Linked DNA regions of Homo sapiens: region 1 is reported to be linked to region 2. The links are microRNA targets in miRTarBase. Many come from high-throughput screens and were not tested one by one. Region 2 holds a microRNA gene; the other region holds the end of a gene's coding sequence.
The links. The annotated mature microRNA hsa-miR-5100 reads UUCAGAUCCCAGCGGUGCCUCU and lies in region 2 at 3,574-3,595, shown strand. An mRNA with a match to its seed (bases 2 to 7 or 8) in the 3' UTR can be bound and repressed. Matches are read on the target gene's strand: a 7mer-m8 pairs with bases 2 to 8, a 7mer-A1 pairs with bases 2 to 7 and ends in A, and an 8mer does both.

Region 1: the mRNA of CACNG6 is a reported target of hsa-miR-5100. Seed matches in the 3' UTR shown: 7mer-m8 at 6,322-6,328.

The regions. Positions count from the first base shown.
Region 1 is chr19:54,011,605-54,018,960 of GRCh38, reverse strand. CACNG6 (calcium voltage-gated channel auxiliary subunit gamma 6) reads right to left here. Exons shown (of 4, transcript NM_145814.2): 4 at 6,295-7,010. The coding sequence ends at 6,772. Among named protein-coding and RNA genes, the nearest start is that of CACNG6, 24 kb to the right of the region's middle.
Region 2 is chr10:42,994,057-43,001,924 of GRCh38, forward strand. It overlaps MIR5100 (microRNA 5100), which reads left to right and starts at 3,507; the gene lies at 3,507-3,625. RefSeq lists enhancers at 3,374-3,874, 6,469-7,164.

The DNA.
Region 1 (7,356 bases), not on the chromosome of region 2:
GGCAACCTCCGCCTCCAAGGTTCAAGCGATTCTCCTGCCTCAGCCTTCCGAGTAGCTGAAATTACAGGCACCTACCACCATGCCCAGCTAATTTTTGTATTTTTAGCAGAGATGGGGTTTCACCATATTGGCCAGGCTGGTCTTGAACTCCTGACCTCGTGATCTGCCCACCTCAGCCTCCCAAAGTGCTGGGGCTACAGGCGTGAGCCACCGCGCCTGGCCTCCTTCTAGCTTCTTATCAGGGAGTGATACCCATTTCAGAACCTCCTCATGCTCACTTCTCTTTATTTCATAGTGGTCGTAAACTATTCTTTACCCATGCCTGGACTTTATTTTTGTGGTAAAATCTTACCGTTACTTAAAGCAAGATTTTACCATTCTAACTATTTAAAAAATGTACTATACTTACTGATACTAAGTACATAAGTACCTCCAAAATGTTGTGCAAGCATTGCCACTATCTAGTGTCAGGAAAAAAAATTTTTTTTTTTTTTGAGACGGAGTCTTGCACTGTTGCCCAGACTGGAGTGAAGTGGTGTGATCTTGGCTCACTGCAACCTCCACCTCCTGGGTTCGTGCCATTCTCCTGCCTCAGCCTCCCGAGCAGCTGGGACTACAGGTGCCCATCACCACGCCCAGCTAATTTTTTGTACTTTTTTTAAGTAGAGACGGGGTTTCACCATGTTAGCCAGGATGGTCTCGATCTCCTGACCTCATGATCTGCCCACCTCAGCCTCCCAAAGTGCTGGGATTACAGGCGTGAACCACCGCGCCTGGCCTTTTTTTTTTTTCTTTTTTTTCAAGACAGGGTCTCACTCTGTCTTCCAGGCTGGATTGCAAGGGTGCAATCACAGCTCACTGCAGCCTTGACCTTCTGGGCTCAAGTGATCTTCCCACCTCAGCCTCCCGAGTAGCTGGGACCGCAGGCATGCACCGCCATGCCTGGCTAATTTTTGTATTTTTTTTTTATAGGGAACTGGCTTTCACCATGTTGCCCAGGCTGTTCTTGAACTCCTGAGCTCAAGCGATCTGCCTAACTTGGCCTCCCAAAGTGCTGGGATTAAAGGTGTGAGCCCCAGCACCTGGCCTAGCATCAGAAACTTTTAATCACCCCGAAAGAAAATCTCTCAGATGAGGCATTTAACAAATGTTAGCTATTGTTATTATCAGTAGTAATAGTAATAGGAGAAGGAGGAAGAGGAAGAAGAAAAGGAAGAAAGAAGTAAAAGGAGGAGGAGGGAGGGATGAGAGGGAAAGGGAAAAAAGACGAGGAAAAGATGAGAAGGGAGGGGAGAAAAAGAGAGAGACAGAGAGAGAGAGAGAGAGAGAGATGAGAGATGGGCTGTGTCCAGAGGCTCTGGGGTGCAGGGATGAGAAATTCTTCAGAAGTTGATGATCTGGGCACCCTTGTCATCTCCTATCTTGCTTCCTAGGCTCAGCCCTGCCCACATTCCTTCTGCTAGGAAACCACCCAGGGACTTGCTCCTTTCTGCCCTAACACCACTGTTGCCAGGCAACCTTCTAGTACTTCTCCAGCTGTCATCCTTCATGAAGCATTGGGCCTCTTTCCAATTCCGGCTAAAGTCAGAACCCTCAGAAGAGAAATTGAGGAAGGAGAGATTTCATGAGAGGTTATAAAATTAAAATAGGCTGGACGCGATGGCTCATGTCTGTAATTGCAGCACTTCGGGAGGTTGAGGTGGGCAGATCGCTTGAGCTCAGGAGTTCAAGACCAGCTTGGGCAACATGGTGAAATCTCATCTCTTTAAAAAAAAAATTTAAATTGGCCTGGTGTGGTGGCATGCACCTGCAGTTCCGGCTATTCAGCAGGCTGAGGTGGGAGGATCACTTGAGCCTGGGAGGTCAAGGCTGCAGTGAGCTGTGATCACGCCACGGCACTCCAGCCTGGGTGAAAGAGAGAGACCCTGTCTCAAAAAAATTAATTTAATTAAAATAGCTACTGTTGGAACACTCATACATAGCACTGTGCATCAGCAGCAGCAGCAGCTAATTTATTTTATTTTATTTTATTTATTTTATTTTATTTTGAGACAGGGTCTCACTCTGTCACCCAGGCTGGAGTGCAGTGGCATGATCTCGGCTCACTGAAACTCCATCTCCTGGGTTCAAGTGATTCTCCTGCCTCAGCCTCCTCAGTAACTGGGACTACAGACACTTACCACCATACCCAGCTAGTTATTTTGTATTTTTTGTAGAGATGATGGCCCGGCCGCCTCTGAGACCTTCTAATCTCCTTTAGTTCAAATGCTCCACCTGACAAACGTCATCCTTACTTCGGGGGTATTGTTTTCTGAGCCCCAACAATACATTGTTTCATAGGATGATGTGATTCCAGTCATTTGTCTTTGTGAGGTCTGTAATTCCTTCTCCCACTTCTGATCAATCTATGTTATATCTCTGCCTTCCCCTCCCTCCAGTCTCTCCCCACCCAGAGCTGAAGCCTGAACTGGCCGTGGGGGAACCACTCGGAGTGTGGTCAGGGAGGGTTTGGGGGAAAATTGCCATCTCCCTTTTCTCTTGAGTCTCTGGCTTTGAACCTTCCCTGCCCTGACCCCGGGTAAGAAAGAGTTTTCAGAATGATGACCCCACTGGACAAAGAGCCATTCCCACCAGGTGCGGTGGTTCATGTACCTGGGAGGCCGAGGCAGGAGAATCATACGAGCCTTGGTGTTTGAGACCAGCCTGGGCAACACAGTGAGACCCCATCTCTATTTATTTATCTTTTTTTTAATGAAGAGTGGCCAGGCACGGTAGCTCATGCCTGTAATCCCAGCATTTTGGGAGGCCAGGGCGAGTGGGTCACTTGAGACCAGAAGTGCAAGACCAATGTAGGCAACAGTGGGAGATCCCCATCTCTACAAAAAATACAAAAACTTAGCTGGCTGTGGCTGTGTGTGCCTGTAGTCCCAGGGATTTGGGGGACTGAAGCACGAGAATCGCTTGAACCTGGAAAGTCGAGGCTGCAGTGAGCCATGATTGTGCCATTGCACTCCAGCCTGGGGGACAGAGTGAGACTCCATCTTGAAAAGAAAGAAAGAAAGAGAGAAAGAAAGAAAGAGAGAGAGAAAGAGAGAAAGAGAAAGAGAAAGAAACAAAGAAAGAAAGAAAGAAGAAAAAAGAAAGAAAGAAAGAAAAAGGAAGAAAGGAAGGGAGGGAGGGAGGAAGAGAGAGAGGCCAGACGCAGTGGCTCGCGCCTGTAATTCCAGCAGTTTGGGAGACTGAGGCGGGTGGATCATGAGGTCAGGAGATCGAGACCATCCTGGCTAACAAGGTGAAACCCCGTCTGTACTAAAAAAAAATACAAAAAAATTAGCCAGGCTTGGTGGCGGGCGCCTGTAGTCCCAGCTACTCGGGAGGCTGAGGCAGGAGAATGGCGTGAACCTGGGAGGTGGAGCTTGCAGTGAGCCGAGATTGCACCACCGAGCTCCAGCCTGGGTGACAGAGCGAGACTTCGGCTCAAAAAAAAAAAAAGAAAAAGAAAGAAGGAAAGAAAGAAAGAGAGAGAGAGAGAGAAGAAAGAAAGAAAGAGGAAGAAAGAAAAGAAGGAAGGAAGGAAGGAAGGAAGGAAGGAAGGAAGGAAGGAAGGAAGGAAGGAAGGAAGGAAGGGCCATTCCCCCAAGACCAACTATCTCCGCCACCCCCATGGCAGATGTCTCTTGAGGCTTCCCTGACCTGGCTGGGCACAAAGTCAAACAACAAAAAAAAAATTGTGGACTCTCTTGTCTCCTAGCACTTAACTTGGTTTATAATTGCACGCTCATTACTTCAGTGATGTGATTAGTATCTGTTTCCATCAGCAGGCTGTCAGCTCGTCGTCGGGGGTCCCTGTTTACTCTGTAAGTGCCACTTGAGAAAAACTAACAGCAAAGGCAGATCGAGTTGCGACCACGTGCCAGGCGGTCTCCTGGGAGCTTTGCAGGGCTCATGATGGCGTTTACTCCCGACGGTGACTCCTGGGAGTAGGTACAGGATTGAGCTCACGCACCGTCTTTAGGGATGAAGGAACGAAGACAGAGAGAGGTGAAGCTGTTGCCCCAGCCATAGGTCGGGGAGCTGGGCTTTCACACCAGCCTGGCTCCCAGGTGCCCAGGCACTGCGGGGCACTTCTGCTTGTTGAATGGAAGAATGCAGAATTAGAAACAAAAATCGCATGGTCAGCTGGGCGCGGTGGCTCACGCCTGTAACCCCAGCACTTTGGGAGGCGGAGGTGGGACGATCACTTGAGGTCAGGCGTTCAAGACCAGCCAGGCCAACGTGGTGACACCCCATCTGTGCTAAAAATACAAAAATTAGCTGGGTCTGGTGGCGCACACCTGTAATCCCAGGTACTGGGGTGGCTGAGGCACAAGAATTGCTTGAACCCGGGAGGCGGAGGTTGCCGTGAGCCGAGATCGCACCACTGCCCTCCAGCCTGGGCGACAGAGTGAGACTGCAAAATAAAAATAAAAATAAAATCACATGATCATCTCAATAGATGCAGAAAAAGCATTTTGATATGGGAGGGGGGCAGAGAACTGCTGGGTAGAGAAGGGCAGGGTCTCTGGCAAGGGCTCTACCCTAGGGCCTGTGCCCATGGACCTAAATTAGAACAGGCATTTCCGAAGGTGCTGGGATTACAGATGTGAGCCACCACACCCAGCTAATTTTTGTATGTTTTGTTGTTGTTGATTTGTTTTGTTTGTTTGTTTGTTTTTAGTAGAGACAGGGTTTCACCATGTTGGCCAGGCAGATCTCGAACTCCTGACCTCAGGTGATCCACCCGCCTCGACCTCCCAAGGTGCTGGAGTTACAGGCATGAGCCGTCGCGTGGGGCCAAGACTCACCCTTTTCTTAACACCTGGCAACCACTAGTCTGTCTTCCGGGTCTGCAATTTAGTGACTTCAAGAATAAGAAACCTTGTTTCAACCCCTTGACCTGATGCCAGTGTGTCTCTGCTCAGCAAGCTCCCATGGCTCCTCAGTACCCTCAGGGTAAAGGCCAAGCTGTTCTGTTGAGCATCTGAGTCTCTCCACCTTGTTCATAAGACAGCCCACCCCAACCCTCTCACGTTTCCTGTGTCTCACTCTGAACACCAGCGTTCACATTTCCTCACTCACAGGTTCATCATGTTTTTCCTCTTGTTTCTGTCCAGGCTCTCCCACCCAGCTGGAACGCCCGTGACGTTCTCCACTTTCTCTGATTCTTACTCACCTTGAAGACTCAAGTTCGTCATCTTCTTCGGAAGGCTTTCCTGAACCAATCCCCCTTCCCCCCACCTTTTTGATTTTTTTTTTTTTTTTTTTTTTTTTTGAGACGGAGTCTTGCTCTGTCACCCAGGCTGGAGTGCAGTGGCGAGATCCCGGCTCACTGCAACCTCCAACTCCCAGGTTCAAGCAATTCTCCTGACTCAGCCTCCCGAGTAGCTGGGATTACAGGTGCCTGCCACCACACCCAGCTAATTTTTGTATTTTTAGTAGAGACGGGGGTTCACCGTGTTGGCCAGGCTGGTCTTGAACTCCTGACCTCAGGTGATCCACCCGCCTTGGCATCCCAAAGTGCTGGGATTACAGGCGTGAGCCGCCACACCCGACCAGAAAACACAATTTAGAATATATACACTGTTAATGGTTGAATGTTCTCCCCTACAAAATGTATATATATATATATATGTTGGACCCTAACCCCCAGTACCTAAGAATGTGACCTCATTTGGAGATACGGTCTTTACAGAGATAATCAAGTTAAAATAAGGTCATTGGGGGTAAATCCTAATCACGTATGACAGGAGTCATGTGTAAAGGGGAAATCTGGGTGGGGTACGGTGGCTCACGCCTGTAATCCCAGCACTTTGGGAGGCTGAGACAGGTGGATCACTTGAGATCAGGAGTTCGAGACCAGCCTGGTTAACATGGTAAAACCCCGTCTCTTCTAAAAAAAAAAAAAAAATACAAAAATTAGCTGGGCATGGTGGCTCGTGCCTGTAAACGCAGCTACTTGCGAGGCTGAGGCAGGAGAATCACTTGAGCCCAGGAGGCGGAGGTTGCGGTGAGCCAAGATTGCAGCACTACACTCCAGCCTGGGAGACAGAGCAAGACTCCGTCTCAAAATAAAAATAAAAATAAAAAATATATTGTGTTTTCCACACTCTCAACCATTGTGTATGGGTTCGTTTTCATGTGACTTCTGGGCTTAAAAGTGTTTCTGGAGGGTATGTTTCTGGAGGGAATATGGGGTCACTTTTCTTTACCCCAGAATGCACGATCACATCACAAATAGACTCCAAAGCAAAGTTGTTAAATTTCCAAACCTTTAATCCCAAATCAGATCACAGCGAGGCCAGACCCTTCGCTATCTCCCCCAACCGCACCCGGAGCTGCAGATGAGTTGTAAAAAGTCTCTCCCGGCAAGTGAATCGATCCAGACCTGGGAAATGAAGGGGCCCCCAACTCCCACCCAAGACCCCCTGACCTCATCCCCCAACCCCACACCCCAGCTACCCCATCAGGTCCCCGCCAGTCTTCTCTGGGGACCCTCGTTTGCAAAGAGCCTCTTCCCATCCCACCCCCAAGCAACCCACATACAGCCACAGAGAAAAACGTATTTACAGAGGGAGAAAGGATAAGGGGACAGGAGGCAGGCGTGTAAAAAAACATGGGCCCCCGAGCAGGGAGAACACAGTTTCTCTAGGAGATGGGGCAAAAAGATCTTGGGGGTACAATGGAGAAGGTCAAAGGGCTCGGTGGTTGCTTAGAGAAGTCTCACGCGTGGCTCTAGGTGGCCCGGTGCCCCCGCTTGGGACAGAGGGACCCCCAGGGCCAGGAAGGCAGTGTGAGCAGCAGAAAGCAGCCGGCCCCCAACAGCAGGATCAGGCCGGCCCCCACGCCGCAGCCCAGGGACCAGGAGTACTCGTAGGTGAGGCGTGGGGCCGGGGGAGGCTCCGGGCTGACTCTCTGCAGCAGGGCCCTCACGGAATGCCGGAACACCTCCAGGCTCACCAAGAGCAGCAGGCCTGCGGGAGAGAGGACAGCTCGCAGTCAGACGCCCGCGACCCCAGCTGTGTCTGAACATCTCCGCCATCCGCTCCCAGCCCTCCCGCCCACCCTGGCACCTTCCCACGCGTGCACTCAACAAATACTTACTAAACACCTACTATATAGCAGGCAGCATTTGGGAAGCTGGAGATAAAGAAAAAAAAAAACAAGACACAAAGTCATAGAGACAGAAAGTAGAAGGATGGTTGCCGAGGGCCGGAGGGAAGAGGAAAAAGGGGAGTTGGTGTTTAACAGGTATAGAATTTCAGCTGGGGAAGACGCAAATCGTTCTGAAGGTGGATGGGGGTGATAGTTGCATAACAA
Region 2 (7,868 bases):
CAGAATATATAAAGAACTTCTAAAACTCGAAAACAAAAGAACAAAACAACCAAATTTAAAAATGGGCAGGCTGGGCATGTAGCTCATGCTTGTAATCCCAGCACATTAGGAGGCCAAGGCAGGCGGGTCCATTTGAGCTCAGGAGTTTGAGACCAGCCTGGGCAACATAGTGATACTCCATCTCTACAAAAAATACAAAAATTAGCCAGGCATGGTGGCTTATGCCTGTAATCCCAGCTACTCTGGAGGCTAAGGCTGGAGGATGACTTGAGGCTGGGAATCAGAGGTTGCAGTGAGATCATGCCACTGCCCTCCAGACTAGGAGACAGAATGAGACCCTGTCTCAAAAAATAAATAAAAATAAAAATAAAATAAAATAAAAATGGGCAAAGGATTTGAATAGATGTTTCTCTGAAGAAGATGCACAAATGCCAATAAGCACATGAAAAGATGCTCAACATCACTAATCTTTAGAGAAATGTAAATTAAAGCCACCATCACTTCACCTATTGGCATGGCTATAATCAGAAAAGCTAAAAGTAACAACTGCTGGTGAGGATGTGGAGAAACTGGAACTCTTGTGCATTGATGATGGAAATGGAAAGTGGTATAACTGTTGTGTAAAATAGTGTGGTCATTCCTCAAAAAGCTAAATGTATAGTTACCATGGAATTGTGACCCAATAATTCCATTCCTAGGTATATACTCAACAGAATTGAAAACAAGAAATCAAAAAATGCTTGTGTCCCAAAGTTTATAGCAGCATCATCCACAAAAGCCAAAAGATGGAAACCAGGCAAAAGTCAACCGACAGATGAATGGATAAATACAGCGTGCTCCACCACACGGAATATGATTCATCCGCACAAAGGAACAAAGTTCTGACACACATGACAACAGAGATGAACCTTGAAAACATTATGCTGAGTAGAATAAGCCAGACACAAAAGGACAAATATTGTAGGATTCCAGATCTAAACTAGGCAAATTTATAGAGACAAAGCAGATTAGAGGTTACCAAGGGCTAGGGGTGGGGGATGGGAGGTTATTGCTTAATGGGTTCAGATTATCTGTTTGGGATGGTGAAAAAGTTTGCAGTGCACAAGAGTTCCAGTTTTGGAAGTAGATATCAGTGATGGTTGCACAACATCGTGAATGTAATTAATGTGAATTATACACTTAAAATGGTTAAAATGGCATTTTTGTGATGTATATCTTTTGCTACAAAAAGAACCATTTTTTAAAGAAGCAATGGTGAGCAAAGTTGGTAAATCTGTAGGTAGATCCAATAAAGCCTTGACAATTCAAAGAAAAGTAATAATTAATTTATGGCCATACAAACAGGGTGAGGCTAGTACTCCAAACAGCAAAGCCTAGCATGCCCAGTACCGGGCAAAGAGCAGGGGGAGACACGGGCTGTGTCTACACAAGGAGCATGCCTTTCTAGCACAGGTATTAAAACTTTAGGACAATTTATTAAAGAAATAGAAAATATGATCTCTGTGTTAGTTTCCTGTGATTGCTATAAGAAGTTACCACAAGTCTGGTAGTTTATAACAACAAAAATGTATTCTCTTGCAATCCTGGAGGCCAGGAGACAGAAATCAAGGTGTGGAGGAGGCAGAGCCATGCTCCCTCTGAGGCTCGGGGGAGGAGCCTTCCTGGCCTCTTCCAGCTTCCCACAGCTGGCATCATTCCTGAGCTGGGCCATGTCTCTCCAATGCCTGCTCTCTGTTTACAGGGCCTTGTCCCCTGTGCAGGTCTGGGTCAAAACTCCCTCTGCTTCTCTTTTATAGGATACATGGTATTTAGGGCCCTGGATGACCCAGGACATGCTCCTCCTCTCAAGGTCCCTCACTCGATCACATCTTTTGCAATACAGGTGATATTCACAGGTTCCAGATTAGACATGGGTGTATCTGTGGGAGTCATGATCAGCCTACCATAACTTCCAAGCAATTGGGAAGAAGAAAAAGAATACAGAAAATTGAGTATTTCTAATAGAAGTTAGGAAAGGAGAGAGAAAATGGAAGTCCAGAAGCCAGGACAAAAAAATAAGTGGTGGAAATAAATTTTCCTAGATCCAGAGAAAACAGTAACCATGAATGTACTGAACAGAGACTGTCAGATTGGACACAAAAGCAAAGTCTTGTGTCAGACGTTGCTTACAGAGGTCACAGTGAAGTATAGAAAGGTAGAAGGCAAGAGGGTGTGGAAAGCCGTGGAGTGTAAATACGGATGGGATGAAAGTTGGTGTGGCCGGGCCAATCCCCAACTTAGACTTAAAGACACAGAGAATCCCTGGGAATGGAGACAGCGACTCCCAGATGATGAAGCAGCAGAGAGATCCTCCAAGGGTGAGTGACCTAGAGCACTTTACCAGCTTTGTAAAGGAAAAGGCATTTGCCTGGAGGCTGCAGGGCCCAGTCCAGCCTAGCTCCAGGACAGCTCCAACCCATCCTCCCATGGGTGGGGTGTCCCTGGTCCAGGCTAGGGACGGTCCAGGGTGGGTTGGCAGGACCTGCTGTGATCGTGAAGTTGGGAACTGCCTAAACCATCTTCTCAGAGCCTGTGTGTCCAGAGGGAAAACCCAAGCACGTGGAATATGGTTTACAAGCCGTGGTTGCTGAGGACAAGGTTGGTAATGAAGGCGCAGGGAAGCCTGGGAGGGCAGAAATGCACAAGGAGGGGTGGGGCTGGAGCCCGGCTGGTCCTGGTATCCTGGGCTTGGGGGGACCCTGCTCCTTTCCCTGGGAGCCCTGAGGCCTCAACTGGATGACAGGAGGTGGATATGCTGGTCCCTGAGGCACAGGCAGTATGAACCTCTGCATGGAGCTGGGTCTCAGCAGAAGCCCACCCAAGCCTGGAGTTTCCCAGCCAGGGATGCACCTTTTTCATCCCAGCAGCCTCTGTCCCTCAGTCCTGAGCCCTCAGGGGCCCTCAGGGCATGAAAGCAGGAATCCCAAATCCACCTTCCAGAATTACACGGGCTGTTCTTGGTGGTCAGGTGGCCTCTCGGGGCCAGGGTCCTTTTTAAGACTGGAACCTCTCCAAGCTCACCAGCACTCTCAGTGCACGCACGCACGCACACACACACACACACACACACCAGGATTTTAAACTCAGTCCAACAAATCTCAGCATGCACCAGAACTATTTCAGCATTTTAAGAGCCTGTATTGATTTTGGAAGGAGCCAGGCAGCGTGTGAAGGCCATTCTGTCTGGGATCCTATGCTGAGTCTGGGGTCTCTGTATGAGGGATTATCCATGTGTGGGGAGCCTTCCCCCTTCAGAGCTTTCCAGCTTCCCTCTGATCACATGTCCTGAGCACACTATCCCAAACCTAACCCCAGCTGGGCTCTAGCAAGAGACGAGGTCCTGTCTTGCTGGGAAAGGGTCATCCTTCCCACCCGGAGGCCCCTGCTCTGCCCCAGTTTCCTGCCACAAAGCCCAGACAGTCCTGGGAACCTGGGCTGGTGAGTCCCTCCATCACCTTCAGAAACAGCCATGAGGAGCTGGCAGTGGGATGGCCTGGGGGTAGGAGCGTGGCTTCTGGAGCTAGACCACATGGGTTCAGATCCCAGCGGTGCCTCTAACTGGCCACAGGACCTTGGGCAGTCAGCTGACCCTGCCCAGTCCCAGCATCCTCATCTGGTCTTAGCTAACAGGGACACACCTGAGGAGGTGGTCTTCATGTCACTTCCACTGGGACCAGTTTTCAGAGCAGCTGCAGGGGTCATCAGTTAAGGCAGTACAGCCCACTTACAGAGGAGGCGGGTGGCTTGGGGTGTGAAGGACGTGCCCAGGTGACATGCTGCTGAGTGGCCCCAACCCCATCCAGGCACCAAGCCAGAGCCTGTCCCCAGGGACCCCAGGGCACATCAGCAGAAGCTGGAGGATGTGGGTCTCCTGGGCCTGGAATCTCAGAGCCCACATTGGTTAATTTCACACGTCCGCTTGACTGGCACACAGGGGGCCTGGATGTTTGGCCAGACATTATGCTGGGTGTGTGTCAGGGGGGCTCTGGGTGAGATGAACACTTGAATCCATGGACTGCAAAGCAGACAGCCTCCCAGTGTGGGTAGACCCATCCAACCTGTCGCAGACCTAAGCTGAACACAAAGGCCAAGTAGGAGATAATTCATTCTGCCTGGCTGCCTTAAGCTGGGAGCTTGGTCTTTTCCAGGCTTCAGACCTGAACCGAAGTACAGGCTCTTCATGCATGTCAAGCCCCTGGCCTTCAGACTGGGACAAACTCCATCAGCTCTCCTGGGGCTCCAGCTGGCCAGCAGCAGATCTGGGGACTTCTCAGACTCCACTATCTCATGAAGCAATTCCTTGCCATCCATCTCCTTTAATAAACACACACGCATCCTATCACTTCTGTTTCTCGGGAAAACCTTAACTAATGCAGAGCCCGAGAGTGGGGCATGGCTCAGGGCTGCTGCACCCAGGAAGCATCTGTGCTCCCTGTGCTTCCAGGCAGGGACCCTCATGGAGGGGTGGGATGGTCGTACTTCCTCAGCCAGCACTTAGGGGCCGTGAGGTCCATAGCCATGAGCTGAGGGAGTGACCCCACAGTTTATGTCACTGTGGAGAAAGGCTCCCTGAGCTGTGGATCCAGCCAGTGGGTTGTAAACCTGACTAAGACACTCAAGCTGCTGCGGCCGGGGGCATGCCACAAACCCCCAGTGAGCCTCAGTTTCCCCCTGTAGAACAGGGGTGTGAGAGCAGTCTCCTCAGGGTGTAAAGAGCCCAGCAAATGCCGGGCACAGCTCATACCAGATAAGCATTAGCTGGTGGCAGAAAAGCTGGAAGACAGACTGCTGACCTCCACAAAAGGATCAGATTTGTGCCAGTCCTGGCCATGGACAACAGGTCCCAGGCTTGACCTGTAGGTGAAGAGCCCAGAGCCCAGGACCACATGCCAAGTGGGAGGCTCCTGGCCCAGAACACCACACCTGCCTAGCAGATGTGTCTCCTGGAAGTGGGAAAGCAGGACTCTCCAGGGAGCCCTGGGGATACAGAGGATGCAGCCCGCGAGGCCCTGGCCTTGAAGCCTTAGTGTCTCTGCAGGCCCCACCTGTGATTGGCCCCTCCAGGGTCACCCAGGAGGGTAAGATGCCCAGGGCCTGCATCTGTGCTGTGGGACACAGCCTGGCTTCTGAGGCCCATGGAAACCTTTCTCGGGAGCTTCTCAGGACCCCAGCCAGGACATCTGTGCCTGTCCGTGACAGCTGCCCTAGAACTGGCCACAGGCCTATGGCTGCCTTGCACTGTCAGCCCCCAACGCCCGTCGTGTCATCAGCATGTCTCAGATGCCTTCAAGGGCTGCCCACTCCATGATCCTTGTCCACAGCCCCAGCATGTCCCCTAGCGTCAGAAGTGTCCCCGGATCCTGCAAGCCAACCACATAGGACGTCCACCTCTGAGCCCCTCTGTTCTCCTACCCTCCTGCTGATCACAGCCCTGCTGCCTGGCCTCATGGTCCAGTGCATCTTTCTCCCTGGAGCTGCCACAGTGCACCACCTGCCTGGCTATGCATTGGTGACCCCTAGGAGCTCCAGGGGGACCTTCACACAGGCCCAGGACAACTGGGGAGTCCTGCCTGCCCTCCTTTGAGTCCAGAAGCCCTGAGCCAGGCTCTCTTCAGAGGGGTGGAGGTCAGCAGGCACCAAGGCCTGCAGTCCCCAATTCTCCTCTCCCAGCTGATCTCTCTTGCCACACCCTGTGCTGGCCCATGCCCGTGAGTCCGCCTGGCCACCCAGACGGGAGCTGATGTCTCCAGGAGACATACGGGACTTGCCATAGCCCAGGCCAGGGCAGTCCCTGGGAGACACAGGGCCTGGGAGGCTGCTTCACCTGCGGGGCTCCTGGGCAGGTGCAGTGCTCCCTGGAGTCCATCCTGGGACCTGTGGCCCAGCCCACCTCAGACTGGCCACAGGCCCTCTCCTGAGAACCCCTGCCTAGGCTCTGTAGCCTTAGAGCCTCACCTAGAAGCTCCCCCAGGCCCCTCCACTGGGCAGTGCTCAGCGCCCACCCCTCTCTAGTCTAGATTTTAGGGGGAGCCTGGGTCCAGGCTGCCCAGCCCAGCACATCCCCAATACATACCCAAGCCAGCCATGATTGCACCATGGGGCCAGGGGCAGTGGGGGTGGTTTGGGGTTGGTGGAGGCATCAGGGCCTGGGTCCCACAGCCAGCCTGGGCCTCCCAGGCCATTGAGCCCTCATCCTTCCAGTGCTCTGCGAGCAGGCGTCCCTTTGTGTGAGGACACCTGTGGTGCACCCCTTCAGTCAGGCATCCCTGCAACCCACTTGGGGGTGCAGACATGAAGGAGCCCATGGGAGGCAGCATGATGGCCCTCTACATCCCCAGGCTCCTGTGCTCCTTCCTTTCAGATGGCATTCATTGAAGGGGCAAGTGGAAGAAGGACGGGTTTCCCAGCAGATGCTGCAATTCAGCCCCTGGCTTGGGATTTGTGTCATTGATATTATTGATAAACAGAGAACACAGGTTGACAAAAGACAAGAGAGGCCACCAGAAATCCATGAAGACAGAGCCTCTTCTGGAGAGAGCAGGCTGTTGGCCACCCTGAGACCCCTCCCCAACTTGCGCCTGGCCTGGATTTTGCAGGGGACGGGGCTGGGGAGCTGGTGCTGGTGTAGCCACCGGCCCTGACACCCAGCCGCGTGACCTTCTCTCGTGGCCTCACAGTCCTCCCTTCAAGGGTCCCAGGCCTGCCCCTCGAGGCCCTCTGCCCTCCAGGAGCGCCCCCATGTCCTTCCCAGCATGGGCAGTGCCTTACAGACACAGGAAGGCTAATGTCAGTGGAGGGACACAGTGACAAGAGGAAGAATGTGCAGCGCCCTTCAGGAGCGTGGTGGGGCCCCAGCAGGGGAGGAAGGCTCCAAGGGGGATGACAGCATGGCTGTGGCAACGACAGTTCCATGATGGCAGTGGGGGTGGCGGTGGGGGTGGCTGACCTAACACAGGGGAGGTAACTGTCCAACAGGAGCCAGGCTCAGCCAAGGAGTACAGCCAGGAAACCTCCCCTTCCCTCCCCCTGCACACCACCCTGGATGAACTGAGGGGCCACCCAGGCACTGGAGCCTCTGCTGCTGTCACAGAGTCAGGCTTTGGGCATGGAGCAGCTGGCAGAGGGGTGGGTGCTGAAGGGCAAGTGGACTCCATGGAGAGGGCCCTGATACGGGGAGGCTCTGCTGGTCTCCGGGAGCAGGTCAGGACCTGAGCAGACTCTCTGGGCTCCTCAGGAGACCACCCAGGGCACACCCAGCCCTGCAAGGGTCTCTACGTGGTGCCGTCAGTGCCCTGCACCCCCTGGTAGGCTGCCCACACCTGTACCTGCTGCCCCACCCAGCAAGGCTGCAGAGCTGCGTGGTTCATGCCCACCTCCAAGGACCCCATGGGGCTGAAGGAGACAGCAGAGCTGCCCAGCTGCAAGGTTGTCAGAGGACCCCTGTTTTTCTGTATTTCTGACAGTAGGAGATGGTGCCATTGCTGGAAGATGGGCCTTTCAGGCTGGCACCCAGCCCCGCCCCAGGGGGCCACGCCACCTCCCACAGGCTCCTGCATGGTGGGCATGTCCCAAGCCAGCCTCATCTGGCCAGGTTGTCACTCTGGGTAAAGTGAGGTGGCAGCCCTGACCTGCCAGCAGCAGACAGTAGAATTCTACAGAGCATCCTTCAGGCTCCAGGGAAGGACAGAGCCCTGAGCAGCAAAGACTCCAGGAGGCATTGTGGCTTTGGAAGCTTTTCTTCAAAGCTTCCAAGCCCATGTTCAGGCCACTTTGCACCTGAGTGACAGCATTTAGCTTTCTTTGTGTTAGGAGAAACCCATGGATTGACT